4 linked regions of the Homo sapiens genome follow. The protein of the gene in region 1 purifies or fractionates together with the protein of each later gene. This does not show direct contact. Each region holds a gene or a part of one and is shown on either strand. Other genes may lie near its edges.

The links.
Region 2: the proteins of PECR (region 1) and ACTA2 purify together in Homo sapiens (affinity purification with mass spectrometry, with the first as the bait; one large-scale study listed by BioGRID). This does not show direct contact.
Region 3: the proteins of PECR (region 1) and HNRNPF purify together in Homo sapiens (affinity purification with mass spectrometry; 2 studies listed by BioGRID and IntAct, with this or other methods). This does not show direct contact.
Region 4: the proteins of PECR (region 1) and PEX5 purify together in Homo sapiens (affinity purification with mass spectrometry; 3 studies listed by BioGRID, with this or other methods). This does not show direct contact.

The regions. Positions count from the first base shown.
Region 1 is NC_000002.12:216,071,216-216,076,392, reverse strand, and holds part of PECR (peroxisomal trans-2-enoyl-CoA reductase), read left to right. Parts: intron 1-5,177. UniProt on the Homo sapiens protein: Participates in chain elongation of fatty acids. Catalyzes the reduction of trans-2-enoyl-CoAs of varying chain lengths from 6:1 to 16:1, having maximum activity with 10:1 CoA. Has no 2,4-dienoyl-CoA reductase activity.
Region 2 is NC_000010.11:88,938,617-88,943,793, forward strand, and holds part of ACTA2 (actin, aortic smooth muscle), read right to left. Parts: intron 3,254-5,177; coding exon 3,169-3,253; intron 2,775-3,168; coding exon 2,613-2,774; intron 1,359-2,612; exon of another isoform or gene 1,083-1,358; coding exon 891-1,082; exon of another isoform or gene 779-890; intron 1-778. UniProt on the Homo sapiens protein: Actins are highly conserved proteins that are involved in various types of cell motility and are ubiquitously expressed in all eukaryotic cells.
Region 3 is NC_000010.11:43,402,030-43,407,206, forward strand, and holds part of HNRNPF (heterogeneous nuclear ribonucleoprotein F), read right to left. Parts: intron 1-5,177.
Region 4 is NC_000012.12:7,198,666-7,203,842, forward strand, and holds part of PEX5 (peroxisomal biogenesis factor 5), read left to right. Parts: intron 1-345; coding exon 346-448; intron 449-3,085; coding exon 3,086-3,176; intron 3,177-3,575; coding exon 3,576-3,686; intron 3,687-3,946; coding exon 3,947-4,039; intron 4,040-4,766; coding exon 4,767-4,886; intron 4,887-5,177.

The DNA.
Region 1 (5,177 bases):
ATCTTTGCTTGACTCTGTTTCCAAACATTGTGGCACATGTGGTGGCATGGCACATGCTTGTAGTCCCAGCTACTTGGGAGGCTGACACATGAGAATTGCTTGAACTCTGAAGGCGGAGGTTGCAGTGAGCCGAGATCACGCCACTGCAATCTGGCCTGGGTGACAGAGTGAGATTCCATCTCAAAAGAAAAGAGAAGAAAAAAATTGGCTAACATTTTCTTTTTTGCTCAATTTGGGTTTATATAACAATGTCTTTCACTTCCACAGGATTTTGACTTTTCCTTTTTCTGAGAGGACACAGAAAGCTTTAGCTCACAAAAGCAGGATATTGTAGGCAGAATTAGATCTCCTTTATACCTTTGACAGGTGCTGTTAGGCAGAGAGAAACCTGATTTCATCAAGGAAAACCTAGCATCGTCAAGTTGAATTCATATCAGATGTTTTTTTATCTTCAAGTTAATCATTCACTTTCTGTTACTACAGTAGAACATAAATTAGGTATAGTAGATAAAATGCAATTAGGAAATGCCGGTGGAAATTATGACCCAAGACAACATTTTTTCTTGCTCTAGTCTAGTCTAACTAGCCTGTTACCAACACCAGGGACCAAGAAGGTGCTGAATAAATGTAGTATTCTGAGTTGAAGATGGAAAGGGATCAGTATCAGCCTAAGCAGGAACGCAGCATACTGGGGCTACAAGCCTCTGATGTTGAAAGAACTCCTTATCCACAAGCTACTTCTATACCTATTCTAAGCAGGTCAGTTGAGCTTTCTGCATCTCTCTAGCTACATATAAACAAAAATAAAGTCTATTGAAATGATTTAGCATGAAAGGCAAGGATTATATATAATATTTTTCTAGTTTATTATAAGGTAGCATAAGAGGTTTGCAATAAATTAAAACAGTATAGAAGTGTATAAAAGAAAAAAATGAGCTTTACCCATTCTGCCCTTTTTCTAAATTCCCTTCCTGGTGATTTTCTACAAATTTAATGTGCACATGTATACACACGTATATATATTTTGTTTTCTACAAAATTGGGATCACAGTATTCTTACTGCTCTGTAATGGTTTTTTTTCCTACTTAAATATCTTGTTTTTTCTTTGTTTTGTTTTGTTTTTTAGAGACAGGATCTTGCTCTGTCACCCAGGCTAGAGTACAGTAGTGTCATCATAGCTCACTGCAGCCTCGAACTCCTGTCTGAAATGATTCTCCTGCCTCAACCTCCCAAGTATCTAAACTATAGGCATGTGCCACAATGTTTGGCAATAAAAAAATTTTTTTAGAGACAAGGTCTCATCCAGGATGGTCTTGAACTCACCACAAGCGACTCTCCAACCTTAGCCTCCCAAATTGCTGGGATTACAAGCATGAGTCACCATGCCTGGCCCATATCTTGTGTTTTTCAATGGTAGTATTGTAGTCATATCTCATTCATTTTAAAGCTGCATAGTATTCCATTGTGTGGGTCTGTAATAACTTATTTAACCATTTCCTGAATGGCCATTTAGGTTTTTATTTTACCCAGCATTGCATTGTTTTTCCCTGTAATATGTTTGCACCCTAGTTCAAGTTTGTCTATAGTGGAAAGTTCTAGCAGTGAAAGTAAATGGACTTGTAAAGTTGTATTTCAGTGCATCTTTACTTGTAGTAGACAACTGTCCTGAAGTCTTGAGGTTTCAGATAGTAACTAGTTATAATTTAGTAAACTTCTATTTAGATAATCCATGTGAATCATCCTATTTATATTCTCAACATATTTTTTACTCGAGGTCTTGGACAAAGTTAGGCATTAATCACCTTGGTGTTCTTGTTTTCTCTCTCTCTCTCTTCCTTCCTTCCTTCCTTTCTTCCTTCCTTCCTTCCTTCCTTCCTTCCTTCCTTCCTTCCTTCCTTTTTTTCTTTCTTTCTCTCTCTCTTTCTTTCTTTTCTTTCTTTTCTTTCTTTTTCTTTCTTTCTTGACACAGTCTCACTCTGTCACCCAGGCACAATCTTGCCTCACTGCAACCTCTGCCCCCAGGTTCAAGCAATTCTCGTGGCTTAGTCTCCTGAGTAGCTGGGATTACAGGCGTGTGCCTCCATGCTCAGCTAATTTTTTTGTATTTTTAGTAGAGGTGGGGTTTCACCATGATGCCCAGGCTGGTCTTGAAGTCCTGAATACAAGCGATCCACCGGCCTTGGCCTCCCAAAGTGTTGGGATTACAGGCATGAGCCACTGCACCCAGCCTAGGTAAAGTTTTTCATCCCTGCCCTATAGAGCCTATGCCCTACTCTGGGAACTAGAGCAAAAAATGTGTATGTTGAAGGCAGAAATATCAAAGAAAGAAGTGGGTGGAGGAAGTGGTGGCTTGTCCTGGGGTGCTTATTTCTCTCCTTTCCATCTCACTGATAAGCTCAGCTATTTCTCCTAAGTGACAGAAACCTAACTGAGTGTTGGATTAGTCTAGAAGTATATACAGTCATGTGTCACTTAACACAGGGAAATCTTCTGAGAAATACATCCTTAAGTGATTTCATCATAGTGTGAACATCATAGAGTGGTAGGCAAACCTAGATGGTATAGCCTACTATATACATGGTTTATATGGTCAATAGCCTATTGCTTCTAGGCTCCAAACCTGTACGGGAGGTTACTATGCTGAAGGCTGCAGGAAATAGTAACACAAAGGTAAATATCTGTGGTCTAAACATATCTAAACATACAAAAGATATAATAAAAATATGGTATTTTTATTATAAAATTATATAAAAACATACAAAAGATATAATAAAAATAAAAGATATAGTAAAAATATGGTATAAAATATAAAAAATGGTACACCTGTATAGAGCACTGTATAGGACACAGGAGCTTACGGGACTGGAAGTTGCTCTGGGTGAGTTAGTGAGGGAGTGATAAGTGAATGTGAAGGCCTAAGACATTATTGTTTACTATTGTAGAATTTATAAACACTGTACACACAGGCTAAACTAAATTTATAAAAAAATAAAGTAATTGCAGCTATGACATTACAGTGGCTACAGCACCACTGGATGATAAGAATGTTTAACTTCCACTTTAATCTTATGAGGCCACTGCCATACATGTGGTCTATCATTGACCAAAACATTGTTATGGGGTGTGTGACTGTGTTTCAGTTATTTTTCCTGCTGGAAGAAGAGGGCCCTCCTGGAAACAAAAGGAGAAAGGAGTAAGCTTCTCCTAACAGTATAACGTATGTTTTTGTTGCACATTATATATTTTGATAAATTAAATTCCATTTTAAAGTTAGGCAAGGCTTACAAGGAACTTATGGTGAATCTTTCCAATTTTTGCTTTATAAAACCCTCAGATTGCACACGAGAATTTCCAAAAGTTGTTACCATTTTTAGTTTACTAAATTATAACCTAAACTTTAAACATAGTTTTTAAAATTGTCTTATTTTGTACAAGCTCTATGGAAAACAGTATGGAGATTTCTCAAAGAATTAAAAATAGAATTGCCATTCAATTCAGCAAACCCACTACTGGGTGTTTACAAAGGAAAATAAATCACTATATGAAGAAGACACCTGCTCTAGTATGTTTATCACAGCACTATTCATAGTAGCAAGTTAAGAATCAACCTAAGTGTCCATCAGTGGATGATTGGATAAAGAAAATATGTTATATATACCATGGAATACTACTCAGCCATGAAAAAGAATGAAATCTTGTCTTTTGCAGGAACATGGATAGAACTGGAGGCCTTTATCCTAACTAAAATAATTCAGAAACAAGGTCAAATGGTGCATGTTCTCACTTATAAGTGGGAGCTAAAGAGTGGGTACACATGGACATACAGAGTAGAATAACAGACATTGGAGACTCTAAAAGGTGGGAGGGTAGAAGCAGGGGAGTGAGGGTTGAAAAATTACCTGTTGGGTACAGTGGCCACTATTCAGGTGATGGATACACTAAAAGCCCCATGTAACAAAACTACACTTGTCCCCCCTACATCTATAAAGATAAGAAATAAAATAAAGTGCCTTATTTTCATATGCAGTAGCTAGCTTATCTTATACAACTAAAATAGTTCAGGCCAAATGGAGAGCCTTTGTACTCTGTGCCTTTGTGAACTTTATTTATTCCACCTGTATATGCTGGACTGTGTGTTAGCCTAACAAATAGAGCAATTACAGGGTCCCTACCTCCCAGGGGATGACAGTGAGTGGAGCAGACTGTTAAATTAACAGGTAATTATGATACAGTGAAATGCTGTATTAGGGTGAAAACAGCCTATAACTGTATCACCTCACATAGAATTTAACACTGAAAAACCACTGCAATCCAGCCTGGGCAACACAGTGAGACCTCATCTTTAAAATATATATGTAAAAGAACCACTTAACAGTTCATAGGTAGTCTTTGCTTTTGCATGGCATTGTGGCATTGTAACAATGATCATGCAAGCTGAAACCATTCAAAGCAAAAATAGTCAATGGGAAAAAGTACAATTATTTCATGACCTTCAAAAATTTTTGTCAAAGTGGCACCCAAACGGGACTTTCAGGGACAAACAGAGACCTGAAGGGACCTAAAGAGGCCTGCAGGGACAAATAGAGATAAGTAGGGATAAATAGAAATAGAGGTAGAGTTAAATAGAGACAAATAGAGAGTTTTGGGCAAAAGTCATCTTAACTTGCAGGGCGTTACTGTAGCCCCAGGAGTTGTTGATTTTGATTGTGAAGAGGAAATTCCAGTAGTGGTAATGTCACAAGAACTTTGGGTTTTTGAACCAGGAGAATATATTGCACAACTATTGCTTGTTCCCTGTAAGTTGCACCCTTCTCCACGAAGGGAGAAGCGAGGGAATCAAGGATTTGAAAGTACAACTAGGAGAGAGATTTATCTATCACAACCCATAACATTTAATGGACTCACCTGTACAGTACAAATTGAAGGCTTAATGATTTTTTTTCTTTGCTATACTGTTGCACGAGAAGGATGAGCTTCAATTTGCTTTCCATGTGCCTTCTGTTAATCAGAGAGAGCCTGCCTCTCCTTATCAATGAGAAGTTTACCCCGTGGTAATTAACCAAAGAGGCAGAAGCTGAGTTACAGCTTGTGGAGCAGATGCTTTGGCAACGGCATGCCTCCTGGCCACAGCCACAAAAGCCTTTGCTTCTGTTTTGGTAGATTTACTGACGTGGGG
Region 2 (5,177 bases), on another chromosome or scaffold:
CAGCTACGTTGCATCTGCCCCAGCCCCCAAAGCTAATGGGGCTGGATTATCAGGGAAACTTACTCTATTTTTTATCCTGTTGGAAAAGGCTCATTTTTCCAATCTTGCTAACATTTTTTTTGGGTGGGGGTGGGGGTCTGGACTTTTGTTAATTTCTGACGCAGGTGTTTTCAAAAAACCTCTAGGTGCCCTTTCATCTTCTGCAGTGCTGTGATGTAATGATAACGTTAACAATAGCACTACCTGATTATTAATTACTAGTGATATCTGATAATTATTGAATGCTTGCTTTTGCCAGGCAGTGGGCTAAGTGCTCTTTATCTATCTCCTGTAATTCTCACAGCCATCCTAGGACATAAGTAATATTACAGTCTCCGCTTTATACATGAGGAGACTAGTTGGGAGGTTAAGTGACTTTCCCAAGATCAAGAGAACTAAGACTGAAACCCAGGCTCACCCCTCTCAGAGCCTGCCTCTGTAAACAACTATGCAAACCTGTCTCTCCAAGACAATGTGAATGTAGGAACAGACTCACTTTGAGTGCTCTTCTATTTTTCTCTCCCCCAGCATTCCCAAATTCTCAGCCTTCAGCACACCCTTGCTACCCTTTCCGCTGTCTCCAAAGCACAGGCATTATTTAATTCTTTCATCATACACCATGAATGCTTTGGGCTTAACTGCAACATAGATAGTGTTTTCTTAGGAAGAAAACCTTTTTCCTGGCCTCATTATGTCTTCTCGCCTTGAAAATGTGGCACTTTCCCTTTTTCTGGTTTAGAAATGCTTTTGGTCTTGGGGCAACCGTCACTTGTCTCCATGTTCTGGAGGCTGGCTTGATATGGAAGAAGACAATGACTCCCCTTCCCAGGAAAAGGGCGTTTGTTGCCTACCGATGAAGGATGGCTGGAACAGGGTCTCTGGGCAGCGGAAACGTTCATTTCCGATGGTGATCACTTGCCCATCAGGCAACTCGTAACTCTTCTCAAGGGAGGATGAGGATGCGGCAGTGGCCATCTCATTTTCAAAGTCCAGAGCTACATAACACAGTTTCTCCTTGATGTCCCGGACAATCTCACGCTCAGCTGTCAACCAGATACAAACATTGTGGCAAACATTAGGGTCTGCACAGGTGGCAAAGATTCACCTGCCCTACTGCAGTCTCTCCCTCAAGACATGTGCCATCAAAAAATGTGTCAGTTCAATATTCTGCAATCCAAAATCCACAATGATAATGACGTAGTAGGGCCACCAGGGAACCACCTCTGTTCCTAGGACAGTGTCTCATGCATAGTAGGCCCTCAGCATGCATTGTCTGGGAAATGCATAACAAGAATAAAATGAGCTAGCTAGAGAAAGGCACACAGTAGCGGATCCTTTTGTACCATAACATTTTTTGGGGTGGGTGGGCAGGATAACTACTCTGTGTTATAATTATTTTATGACAGAAAGTTTGTTATATTGTATTTTCAGTTAACCAGGATATCTTATGCTGAATCAGCTCCTCAGGGGCCTCACAATTTTCAAAAAGTCTGAGATCCTGTTGCCTGGGCCAGTGGATAGCAGGTTAAACCTTTGGCACATTTCTCACCCTCCAGGAAAGAGGTGGTGCTGTCTCAGGACCAGGCCTAGTCCAGAAGGTTTCAGCGGTGCATACTGAACGAGATACGGAAGAAGTGGGCAGGGAGAGACCTTTCAGACTTCTGCTCTCTGAAGTTCTAGGCTATTAATTATATCTGAGGCTCTAGGAACCTTTTAGAGGCATCTTGGGATTCTTTGTAGGGAGCAGAGGAGGAATGCAATTATTCAACTTCATATTGCAAGTGGAGACTTTAACATTGGCAGGGTTCAAGTCTCAAGCCTCAAATTTGGAGCATAAAATAAGCCTCAGGCATGTTCAGAAACCTAAATGTTTGGACAATACCAAATTGCTAAGGGGAGGACAGGTAGCTGGAGCCACCAGCACTGAGGACATACAATGTTTCTGGCAATGCTGACACTTTCCTCTTGTGAAGGGAGGACTGGGTGCACCGGCTTAGAATCTGAATACACATATGTCACTGTGTTAGCTATTAATAAGTATCACTGTTAATAGCTAACAATTATTGAATGCTTACTCTATGTCAAGTATTCCACATGCGTTCTTCCATTTAATACTGATAACAATCATGTGATATAGGGTCTATTATTATCCCCATTTTACAAATAAAGAGACTATGGTTGGTTAACTTGTCCAAGCTCACAGAGCTACTGAGTAGCAGAGTTGGGACTCGAGTCCTATCACAATGTCTCCTGCCAATCACCACACCATGCCATCTTCAGTCTCTGCACAATCTTCTTCTATTTGCTAATGGAGGGGATTAAAAAAAGATCAATTATACAACACTGACTAATGCATAACACTGGGTGTCTATAACTGTTCTCCTCAAGGAAATAGTGTAATCATTTTGCAACTTCACACAGCAAAGAAAGATGTGCTTTGCTCTGTGCATTAGAGCCAGGCCTTGCCATTTGCAAAACTTCATCCCATCATCTCCTTGGATAGTGAGGATGGTCCTGGAAGTTACTGAGCAACACACTGCTCCCCTCTCCCCCTTATCTCCCACAGGCCTCACCAGTAGTAACGAAGGAATAGCCACGCTCAGTCAGGATCTTCATGAGGTAGTCAGTGAGATCTCGGCCAGCCAGATCCAGACGCATGATGGCATGGGGCAAGGCATAGCCCTCATAGATGGGGACATTGTGGGTGACACCATCTCCAGAGTCCAGCACGATGCCTGGGAGACAATTGGGCGTGATAAGTCACCATGGCAGCTGGCATGTGGTTACTTGCTGGACAAGTAGAGGGAAGCCTTGGGGGAGAGGGAATTTCCGAGCCTCTTATTTAAAAAGAGAAAACAGGGCATGTGATAGGAGAGGTGAGGTGGGACAGGGCTCGGGGAAGATGAAAAAAAGTAAAGAACAGGAAGAGGAAAACAGTAGAAAAAAGTTCTGCTAGAAATATGAGATCAAGGGCTTATTTTGAACACTAGAAGAAGATCTTTTAGGGCTGGGTTCAGCCGTGTCCATTCTAACTCAACTCCAGTCCGTCACCCCCACGTGTTAACGACCATTCAATCCCATCTCTGGCAGTGCGCTCCAACCAGCTTGCTGTCCCGCCCAGCCACCTACCAGTTGTGCGTCCAGAGGCATAGAGAGACAGCACCGCCTGGATAGCCACATACATGGCTGGGACATTGAAAGTCTCAAACATAATCTGCAAAGCAATCCAAAGAGCTGAGTTAGTGAAGGTGCCCATCTGACAAAGAATGGTCAGGAGAGCACACCTGGTTGATGGATGCAGAGGGGCCTGACCTGTTCTGGGCAGAGGAGGCCAAAGTAAGGAGGTTCAGAACAGCCCTGGTCACGTTAAAGAGGAGAAATGAAGGTGTGAATGGGGAGCCATCACATCAATGGCCTGACAGGGTGGGGAGGGGAAGAAACAGTGTGCACACAAGGTTTGGCCAGGGGAAAGGAAAGTCCAGCTTCTGGCTCTGGTCCTGGCTTTGACTAATAGTCACCAAACTAATAGTTGATTAATAGTGGCTTTATTCCAGGTCTCTTAACAGAGGAGGAGTTTGGACTAAATGAGATCTCCCATTTTTCCAGTGCAGACATCCTAGGGCTTGTTAACTATGTCAAAGCCAGAAGAAAAAGAGAAGACAACATCCAGGTTTTGATTTCCCTGGTATAAAGAAAGAGAACTTTTAAATCTGAAGCTCAGGCTGGCTAGGTTTAGCCCCATTTCTGTGATTTGTCTGAGGTTCTATTTAATCTATTCCACTTTTTTATGTAGTTACTGGGTCAATGCTAACCCTAGAATCTGAGGCCATTCTGGTTGCAGTGGGAGAGGCCCTGGTTCCTGGAAGACAGGACCAGCCCAATGGTAATAGAGGACCACATAGAATGTCAGTGCCCCAGTTGGTGCAGTCCAGGGACAAGATTAGAACCAAGCCCCTCCAGGTCACTTGTGAGAAGTTTGTGCATCAGGAGATGTCCGTGGGTCTTCATTTCTCCATCTGTAAGACCCTTCCTACTCTATTAACCAGAATGTCTGACATCATTTGCTAGCAAGCCATAATTTCCAACCATTTTTTTTTTTTTGCCTTCACACCACTGACAGGAACAATAATTCATCAGAAGCAACATCTCTTGCGACGTGCAGTGATTCCCAGGCCCACAGATGTTCCCCTGTAGAGAACAAGTGCTAGTGGGTTGGTGCAAGCACCAGGAGCTCTTCTGAGGAAAAGGCCTTGCAGTTATTTACATTTATGATTCTTCAATGCTGGAAGATCGTGGATCAATCCCAGGCTTTGCCAGTTCTAGCTGTGTGACCCTGGGAGAATTACTTAATGTATCTGAGCCTCAATTTCTTCATTTATGTAGTCAATATAATCATAGTTCCTGCTTCACATTGCTAGAACTTAAAGAGACAATGAATGTAAAATGCTGAGCCCAGTACTTGACCATAACAAGTATAGAATTGACACTAGACGTTGTTATTTAATAGCTCTTCCAAACTAGAAAACTCAGAGCTCTGTCTGGTGGGCTGGATGGGATTCTATTGTGAGGTCTTTAGCTTCAAACAAGTAATAATAATGACAATAGTAAGTACTATATTTTGGATGTTTATTAGGAACCATGATACACATCTGTCATTTCACCTCATTAATGTTCACATCAATCCTTGGAAAAATGATAGTATTAATATTACTCCCAACTTATAGACAAGGAAACTGAGGCTCTGAGAAATTAACGGAGTTCTTTAAGGTCACATAACTGATAAGTGGCAGATCCAGTTTTCAAACCTAGATATGTCTGACTCTGGAACCCAAATTCCTATTGTATGTGATGCTGCATTTTGAAGTGACTTCTCCTTAGACATTATAACTTAAACGTGGCCCCTTCTCAGTGAAATCTTTTAAATTTCCTATTGCTTTTGGAGGCAAAGGGCTGGTCCCTGCAGGAAGGATGCAAGTACTTTCAAGCTGTTCCTGTCCTTTGGGATCCCTGAGTTCACTGAAGGCTGTTAGTCTGTTGGTGGACTCCTAGCTCCGGCCTTCTCTCTGCTGTGCTGCATAGCCTCCTTCTAACAGAAGTTTCCCCAGACCCCACAGTGTTGTGTGCTGGGGTAGCATACT
Region 3 (5,177 bases), on another chromosome or scaffold:
CTCAGGTTTCAGGGAACAAGAAGTGCTAGACAAAAACCATAATGATTTTAACAGGAAAAAAAGAGCAACTTCAGATACCACTCCATTACAAAACTTAAAAAAAAAAACTTTCTGGAACTAAAACTGAGTTTTAAATTTAAAAGTTAGTAATGAATTCAAAGAAAGGAAAACGAAGTAGAATAAACATCAAAACAGAAACAATGGGGGAGAAGATAAGAGATTTGGAGGACATACTTTTTCCAAAGCAGTTTCCTCTATACTTTAGGAGTTTTACCAACACACGCCTGTGCTGTGTCTTTTCAAAATATCCTAATGGGAACTACAGGGATCTTAAGCCAGGAAAATTCACTTCTAATCCTTTATCGCTTCTCTTGCTGCCTCCATCTGTGTCTTTTTCTCCTTCTGGAATTCCTACTATTCACATTATTTCTCCTGCCTGAAAAGAAACCAACCCTATCAACACCCTCATCTTAAGACTTCTAGCCTCCATAACCGTGAGAAAATTTGTTACTAGTCTGTATTACTTTGCATGGCAGCCCTAGCATACTAATACAACGTGTTACCAAACCAGACAAAAACATCACAAGAAAACTAACTTCTGAATTCTATGTACTTTAAGAGGATCGTATATGGTATCTAACACCAACTTAAATTAGAAAAGATATGTATTTGTCATAAACATCATAATTCTATTAGATGGCACTATTCTAATCAAATAACTTATGATGGATTTATCGGGATATAACAGTAAGTAAGAGTATCTGTATTTGTATTAGGTGAAGCATTTTGTCTAACAGGAGGCATACCGTTAGGATAAATCTAATAGGAGTCTTAATCTGTCATGCCTTTTCTTAATTATGATGGCTTTTTTTTTTTAAACGGGGTCTTGCTTTCTTGCTCAGGGTGGTATGCAGTACTGCAATCACAACTCACTGCATCCTCTATGTCTTTACAAGTGTTCGCTATCATACCTGGCTAATTAAAAATTCTGTTTTTGAAAAGATAGGGTCTTGCCATCTTGCCCAGGCTTATCTTGAACTCCTGAGCTCAAACCATCATTCCACTCTCGGTTCACTGCAACCTCCACCTCCTGAGTTCAAGCAATTCTCCTGCCTCAGCCTGGGATTACAGATGCACACCACCACACCTGGCAAATTTTTGTATTTTTAGTAGAGATGGGGTTTCGCCACATTGGCCAGGCTGGTCTTGGACTCCTGGCCTCAAGCAATCCGCCTGCCTTGGCCCTGCTGGGATTAAAGGTGTGAACCACCCCGCCCAGCCTGTGTCATTTTCAAGAGATCTTTTTCCTAGCCCCAGCCCATATAGTTATCTGAACTTACAAAGCGTTGATGTTCTTCTCTAAATTTTTACACTTACATCTACAATGAACTTGGAATTGATTTTTTCATTTCCAAAAGAGTTTTACAATTAATCAAGTATCACAGGCTAATTTCACTCAAGAACTCAGATGCAAAAGTCCAAACCAAGTATCAGTCAACCTAATCCAGCAATATATAAAGCGATATTATGACCAAGTTGGATTTCAGGAATGCAAGTGTAGTTGATCATTTCAAACTCAATCACTGCAATTTCTCATACTGATGTATCAATGGAGACAAAGTATAGAGGTACTTTTTTAATGTTTTATGAGAAATGCTAAGCTGAATTTATGTCAAGGAAGAACTGAGGCCATATATAGTGGCTCACACCTGTAATCCCAGCACTTTGGGAGGCCGAGGTGGGCAGATCACTTGAGCTCAGGAGACCACCCTGGGCGACATGGCAAAACCCCTTCTCTACAAAAAATACAAAAAAAAATAGCTGGGCATGTGGCACACACCTGTAATCCCAGCTACTTGGGGGGATGAGGCAGGATTGCCTGAGCCCAGGAGGTTGAGGCTGCAGTGAGCTCTGTCCACACCAGGGCACTCCAGTGTGGGCATCAAAGTGAAACCCTTTCTCGAAAAAAAAAAATGTGGAGGGCTGGGCGTGGTGGGTGACTCACGCCTGTAATCCCAGCACTTTGGGAGGCCAAGGCAGGTGGATCACTTGAGGTCAGGAGTTTGAGACCAGCCTGGCCAACATGGTGAAACCCCCCACCCCCTGCCACTCCACCATCTCTACTATTAGATGGGCGTGGTGGTGCTGCACACCTGTAATCCCAGCTGCTCACGAGCCTGAGAATCGCCTGAACCCAGGAGGCGGAGGCTGCAGTGAGCCTGGATCCTGCCACTGCACTCCAGCCTGGGTGACAGAGTGAGAATCCGTCTATAAAAAAAAAAAAAAAGGAAAACAAAAACAAAAGTACATCTTAGAGCGATCACATGAAAAAGTATTCCTGCTAATAAATGAAAAGGAATCGATTATTAAAATATCACTAATTTGAAAACCATTTAAGAAAATAATGGATCTACATAATGATCATTAATAGCTGCTGTAACATGACAAAAGAGAAGATACCAACCAATATGTGCCTCCGGTTGGAGCACAGCACCTCAAGTAAGTTTTCTTTCCAAAAACTCTCATCTGAATCAAAACTACCTCCAGACTGGGTGCGGTGGCTCACACCAGTAATCCCAGCACTTTGGGAGGCTGAGGCGGGTGGATCACCTGAGGTCAGGAGGTTGAGACCAGCCTGACCAACAAGTTGATACTCCGTCTCTACTAAAAATACCCCTGTAATCCCAGTTACTCAGGAGGCTGAGGCAAGAGAATTGCTTGAACCCAGGAGGCAGTGAGACAAGATCACACCATTGCACTCCAGCCTGGGCAACAAAACCAAAACTCCGTCTCAAAAACAAAAATAAAACCAAAACCAAAAACTACCTCTAGAGGTAACTATCACTTTACAGGAAATATAAAGAACAGACACTCAAAGACCACCACGGAAAAACAATCAGAAAAATGCGAAGTGTGGGGAAGGAATGCTGCAAGACAGCCCGACAAATATAACGGGGGATGGAGCCTTTTAAGAAAGGGGAACCTCTAGATGATCACTTACACAGCATCCATTCACCACGCTTGAAATGTGTAAGTGTAAAACTCACACTGGATTTTGACAAGTTCACAGGATTTTGTTTTTAATTATTTTAGTCAAGATCATGGAGAAATGAAAAAGTGTTTTAAAATTACATGCAAAATAGTAGTGGATATATATTAGGTTAAATTATTAATACAATGAATCATGTTTCCTTTTACCACTAAAGAATATAAGATTACATTTATAGCATACATTATATTTCTATTGGACAGTGCTGCTCTGAATTTAAAAAGTTATCTACAAAATATAAGGTGTGACTTTGGATCCTGACTCAAACCAACCAGCTGTTTAAAATATTTAATACATGCCGGGCGCGGTGGCTCACGCCTGTAATCCCAGCACTTTGGGAGGCCGAGGCCGGCGGATCACGAGGTCAGGAGATCGAGACCATCCCTGCTAACATGATGAAACCCCGCCTCTACTAAAAATACAAAAAATTAGCCGGGCATGGTGGCGGCCGCCTGTAGTCCCAGCAACTCGGGAGGCTGAGGCAGGAGAATGGCATTAACCCGGGAGATGGAGTTTGCAGTGAGCTGAGATTGTGCCACTGCACTCCAGCCTGGGTGACAAGAGCAAGATTCCGTCTCGGAAAAAAAAAAAAATTTAATACAGAAACACTTAAACCCTGGATACTTGATATTTTGGAATGTATTTTTAGGCATGACAGCAGTATCATGGTTAGGTTTTAAAAGTTCTTAGAAATACTGCGGATTTATTTATTAATAAAGACCTTATTGGTCTGGGATTTGCTGTAAAATAAGCCAGGGCGGTCTTGGCTGAGCTCAGTTCTCCCTCTGCCCACCCTGTTGCCCTCCACAAGAACCGTAGCTCAGGGCAACTAAGACAGGGCAAGGGCCCTGGCAGGGGAGGGGTGTCCCGGTCCAACTTGGGACCCAGTTGGGACTGGGTCCCAAGTCCCAATTGTGTCCCTGGACACATGACTTCTCCCAACCTCCATTTTCTCATCTGAAACATGGGGCTAATAGCAAGCCCTTCTGGAGTAGTCCTGAGCATGTAATTAGAAAATGGAGTAAAACTTCTAGGACCTAGTAAGAGTCAACTAATGTGGTTCTCCCGAAGAGCAGAGAACCAGAGCTCAGTGGGGGAGAGGGAATTAGAGAAGTCACCTCCAAGGAAAGGGCCTGTCACATTTCTGCAGCCCCTGCAGGCATCTACCCCCACCGGGCTCTCATTTGCCTCCAGGCTTTCCAAGGTTCTGGCCACGTGGGAGAAGTAACTTTCTATTTACTCAGTCTTTTCCCTTAAATAAATTCCATTTTTTACCTGAATAAAGCTTTATAACGCTACCCTTAACAGAAAACTTGGCAGTTTACAAAAAAGTGGCCGGGCACGATGGCTCACGCCTGTAATCCCAGCACTTTGGGAGGCAGAGGCGTGAGAATCGCTTGAGCACAAAAGTTTGAAAATCAATCTGGGCAACATAAGGAGACCCCATCTCTACAAAAAATACAAAAATTTGCCGGGCGTGCTGGAGAGTGCCCGTGGTCCCAGATACTCGGCGGCTGAGGTGGGAGGATCCGTTGAGCACAGGAGGATCTCGGCAGCGAGCCGAGATCACACCATTGCACTCCAGCCTGGGCAACAAAGTGAGACCCTGTCTCAAAAAATAATACATATTTTTTTATAGAGACGGGGTAGGTCTCTGGGGCCCAAGCGATCCTCCCACACCTCGGCCTCCCTAAATGCTGGGATTACAGGCGTGAGCCACCTCGCCCGGCCGATAATGACTCTAATCTACAGAATGCACACCGGAATGTAATACCTACAAGGGAAAAGATCTTCTTGCTTAGGAATAAAGCAATCTCTCTCTTAATATTCATTAAAGTAGTAATGTCTTATTTTATAGTTTATAAATTCTGTGAGAGCAACGAGTCACTTTGCAGGAATAGCACTTAAGGTATCTTTCACCTACCTGGAGAACCCAAGAAATTTTCATCTTACTAGGAATTCAGAGACAACCACGTATTTAACTTTTAAAAATATAACTAAGTAGAAAGAATTATATGCGTGTATTTTTGGAAGAATTAAGATGACTTTTGGGACGGAACGACTGAAAACTACGCTTTCAGAACTCCCTGCCGCCTGAGGCTGTGGCCCTGACCCCGGCGCAGGGCCC
Region 4 (5,177 bases), on another chromosome or scaffold:
TGAGGAAAGTGAAAGCCCTTCCGCTTCCTATTTCTTATTGAAATATCTTGCACTTCAAGAAAAAGAGTTTGGTTCTTAATCCTTTCCTGAGATTCCTTATTTGATCTCCCGTTCCCAACTCTCAGTAAATTTCTGCCCCAGGCTCCTTGAGAATGGGTTGGATATTGAGGATGTTGAAAATTTAGTACTATATTCTTTTGACCAGGGGTTTCTGAGGGAGTCAGCAGAGTTTTGTCTGCTTTGGTGTGGCTAAGAGGGTCAGTTGAATATGGGCATCTCTTTCCCTTTCCTTGATCCCACACTGAATGAACCTGTGTGATTTCCCCACTTCTCTGCTCCTTGCAGACCCCTTGTCTGTGTCCCCTGCCCGCTGGGCTGAGGAATATTTGGAGCAATCAGAGGAGAAGCTGTGGCTGGGAGAACCTGAGGGAACAGCCACCGATCGCTGGTGAGTTCAGATACCTCTTTCCGAATCCCGTGAAAGGAGTATGGACAGTTTTCCCAGCCTCCTCCATCCACGTTCTCGAACCAACTTACTTTATTCTTTTTTTTTTTTTTTTTTATCATTCTTGGGTGTTTCTTGCAGAGGGGGATTTGGCAGGGTCATAGGACAATAGTGGAGGGAAGGTCAGCACATAAGCAAGTGAACAAAGGTCTCTGGTTTTCCTAGGCAGAGGACCCTGCGGCCTTCCGCAGTGTTTGTGTCCCTGGGTACTTGAGATTAGGGAGTGGTGATGACTCTTAAAGAGCATGCTGCCTTCAAGCATCTGTTTAACAAAGCACATCTTGCACCGCCCTTAATCCATTTAACCCTGAGTGAACACAGCACATGTTTCAGAGAGCACAGGGTTGGGGGTAAGGTCATAGATCAACAGGATCCCAAGGCAGAAGAATTTTTCTTAGTACAGAACAAAATGAAAAGTCTCCCATGTCTACTTCTTTCTACACAGACACAGCAACCATCGGATTTCTCAATCTTTTCCCCACCTTTCCCCCTTTTCTATTCCACAAAACCGCCATTGTCATCATGGCCCGTTCTCAATGAGCTATTGGGTACACCTCCCAGACGGGGTGGTGGCCAGGCAGAGGGGCTCCTCACTTCCCAGTAGGGGCGGCCGGGCAGAGGCGCCCCTCACCTTCTGGACGGGGCGGCTGGCCGGGCGGGGGGCTGACCCCCACCTCCCTCCCGGACGGGGCGGCTGGCCGGGCAGGGGGCTGACCCCCACCTCCCTCCCGGACGGGGCGGCTGGCCGGGCGGGGGGCTGACCCCCACCTCCCTCCTGGACGGGGCGGCTGGCCGGGCGGGGGGCTGACCCCCCGCCTCCCTCCCGGACGGGGCGGCTGGCCAGGCGGGGGGCTGACCCGCACCTCCCTCCCGGACGGGGCGGCTGGCCGGGCGGGGGGCTGACCCCCACCTCCCTCCCGGACGGGGTGGCTGCCGGGCGGAGACGCTCCTCACTTCCCAGACGGGGCGGCTGCCGGGCAGAGGGTCTCCTCACTTCTCAGACGGGGCGGCCGGGCAGAGACGCTCCTCACCTCCCAGACGGGGTCGCGGCCAGGCAGAGGCGCTCCTCACATCCCAGACGGGGCGGCGGGGCAGAGGCGCTCCTCACATCTCAGACGATGGGTGGTCGGGCAGAGACGCTCCTCACTTCCTCGATGGGATGGCGGCTGGGAAGAGGCGCTCCTCACTTCCTAGATGGGATGGCGGCCGGGCAGAGACGCTCCTCACTTTCCAGACTGGGCAGCCAGGCAGAGGGGCTCCTCACATCCCAGACGATGGGCGGCCAGGCAGAGACGCTCCTCACTTCCCAGATGGGGTGGCGGCCAGGCAGAGGCTGCAATCTCGGCACTTTGGGAGGCCAAGGCAGGCGGCTGGGAGGTGGAGGTTGTAGCGAGCCGAGATCACGCCACTGCACTCCAGCCTGGGCACCATTGAGCACTGAGTGAACGAGACTCCGTCTGCAATCCCGGCACCTCGGGAGGCCGAGGCTGGCGGATCACTCGCGGTTAGGAGCTGGAGACCAGCCCGGCCAACACAGCGAAACCCCGTCTCCACCAAAAAAATACGAAAACCAGTCAGGCATGGCGGCGCGTGCCTGCAATTGCAGGCACTCGGCAGGCTGAAGCAGGAGAATCAGGCAGGGAGGTTGCAGGGAGCCGAGATGGCAGCAGTACAGTCCAGCTTCGGCTCGGCATCAGAGGGAGACCGTGGAAAGAGAGGGGGAGAGAGACCGTAGGGAGAGGGAGAGGGAGAGGGAGAGGGCTTACTTTATTCTTTAAGATTTCCCCTTGGGTTATTACTCCTGTGAATTTATGGTTGAAATGTAGTCAAGGACACAGTGGTTGTGTGCCTGTACTCAGGAAGCTGAGGTGGGAGGATTGCTTGGGCCCAGGAGGTCAAGTCTAGCCCGAGGAACACAGTAAGACCTTGTCTTTAAAAAACCAAAAGCGCATGCATGTGTGCGTGCACACACACACACGCACACACATATATACACACATACACATATGTACACACGCATACATACACATACATGTGCACATACATGTATATACACACGTATACATATGTAAACATGTAGATACATGCGTACACATGTATACACACACATAGACATACATGTATACACACATACACATACACATGTATATACATACACACATACACGTATATATACATATCAGCTATATTTGGGAGGAAGGGAGTTTTCAGACTTTTAAAATATATGTATATAGGTAAATATATATATATTTTTCAAGAATCCTAACTATCCTATATGACGTTCATAACTTCATCTTAAAGTTCATAATTTTACCTTGTTCCCTTCTTAATTTTGAGCCTGCTACTATCCCATCTGTATGCAAAGATATGTTTGGGAAAGGGAGAGCTAGAAGGATGTAGCTAGTACTTTCACACTCCTGCCCAAATGTCCTTCTATAATGCAAATTGGAGTTTGTAGGTTCTCAACAGGAGAATGGAGTTCCCTCACAGGAACTGTCATTGTCATGGGCTAGGAGTGGGGAGTAGCATGGGGAGGGTGATGGCAGACTAATGTGTAAAATTAGTTCTTACCCGTTCCAGGTATGATGAATATCATCCTGAGGAGGATCTGCAGCACACGGCCAGTGACTTTGTGGCCAAAGTGGATGACCCCAAATTGGCTAATTCTGAGGTGAGCCACATCCCTCTGCTGCTTTGCCCAGCAGAGCTGGTTTTGGAAGGCAAGAATCTTGCTTTTCTTACCCCAGTTTAGTTTAAAGAGAAGGAGAAGAGATCTTAGGTCTCTTCGTTCCTGTCTATAGAACAGAGACTTAAGATCCTGCCTCTTCCTTCTAGTGTTCATTCCCTCATCTCCTTGCCTACTAACTCTTTTTTCTGATGCCTTTGCAAGTCTTTAGAGCCAGAAATCCCTTTCTTTTTGCTCTCTACCTCTTTTAGGGTCTTTAGCATATCTTGTCTGCAGCTAGAGATGGTCAGGGGAGGGGTGAGTACAGGGTCCTCTTGGGCATGGTTGAGAGTGCACACCTGGAAGTCCTTTCCCAAGTGGCCTGTGTGTGTCTCTGTGCCCCAGTTCCTGAAATTCGTGCGGCAGATTGGCGAAGGGCAGGTGTCCCTGGAGTCCGGTGCAGGGTCGGGCCGAGCTCAGGCAGAACAGTGGGCAGCAGAGTTTATACAGCAGCAGGTAGGACATTGTCACTTTCCAGTCCCACTTCAGAGCCAGCTGATGCCCCAGGCCATGGGTTCAGTGGTCAGTGGTCCCAGATGGGGAAGGATAAGACCAGCTTGTCTTGATAGCATCCAGGTCCCAAGTGGGTGGGAAAGAGATTCTGAGAATGATTTTCTCAGAAGTACCCAGGTTGGTGGTGGTTAGTGGGTATTTAGTGTGCGTCTGATGGATAGAAAGTTGGTGGTAGTGGTACTGACCATCCTTTTTTGTCGCAGGGTACATCAGATGCCTGGGTTGACCAGTTCACAAGACCAGTAAACACATCTGCCCTTGATATGGAGTTTGAACGAGCCAAGTCAGCTATAGAGGTGAGAGCAGATAGTGCAGGAGCAGACACCCCAAAAGAAAACACTCCTTGGAGTGAGTGGGTGTATGAACATCAAAGATGATGCAAATTGTATTTCATAGTGGACCTGGATCATCTGTGTCAGAGTTGCTTGGGGATGGGGTGGGTGCTGTTGAAAAATGCAGATTTCTGGGCCAGGCATGGTGGCTCATGCCTGTAATCTCAGCACTTTGGGAGCCCGAGGTGGGTGGATCACCTGAGGTTAGGAGTTCGAGACCAGTCTGAACAACATGGAGAAACCCCATGTCTCTACTAAAAATACAAAATTAGCGTGGTGTGTTGGCGCATGCCTGTAATCCCAGCTACTTGGGAGGCTGAGGCAGGAGAAATGTTTGAAACTGGGAGGTGGAGGTTGCAACGAGATGAGATCACGCCATTGCACTCTAGCCTGGGCAACGAGAGTGAAACTCTGTCTCAAACAAAAAACTAAACTAAACTATGCACTGCACTGCACTGCACTGCACTGCACTGCACTGCACTACATTACATTTCTGGCCATCACCCCAGACTACTAAATCAGTATCTGGGGATAGCATCTGGCCATTTGCATTTTAAAAAACTTATTCAGATGATTCTTAAACATATTGAAATTCAAGAACTGCTGCCTTAGAGAATCCCAGCAGAGCTGAGTGTGGGGTGGGGTGGTCATGATGGATCTCCTTTTTCTATCTGCTTTCCCTTCCTTACAGTCTGATGTCGATTTCTGGGACAAGTTGCAGGCAGAGTTGGAGGAGATGGCAAAACGGGATGCTGAGGCCCACCCCTGGCTTTCTGACTATGATGACCTTACGTCAGCTACCTATGATAAGGTGAGGTAAAAACTCTTAGTTTTTCAGGTTCCAGAACTTCCTTCTTTTTAACGTCTTTCCTTTAATCCTGAATTTGAAGGGTGCTTTTAAGTATTTTCTTGAGTCCCTTTCCACGAAAAGAAGTCTGAATAATTCCCTTGCCCTTCCTCTTCAGTGATTGAGTATAAACTTTATTCTTGGGATATAGATGTTAATGAGACTATCTTTGTCAATAACGACAGTCCAGTACATAACACCTGTGAAGGAGGTTTGCACATGCTTGCTGCATTAAAAGCACAGAGGAAGTAGCTC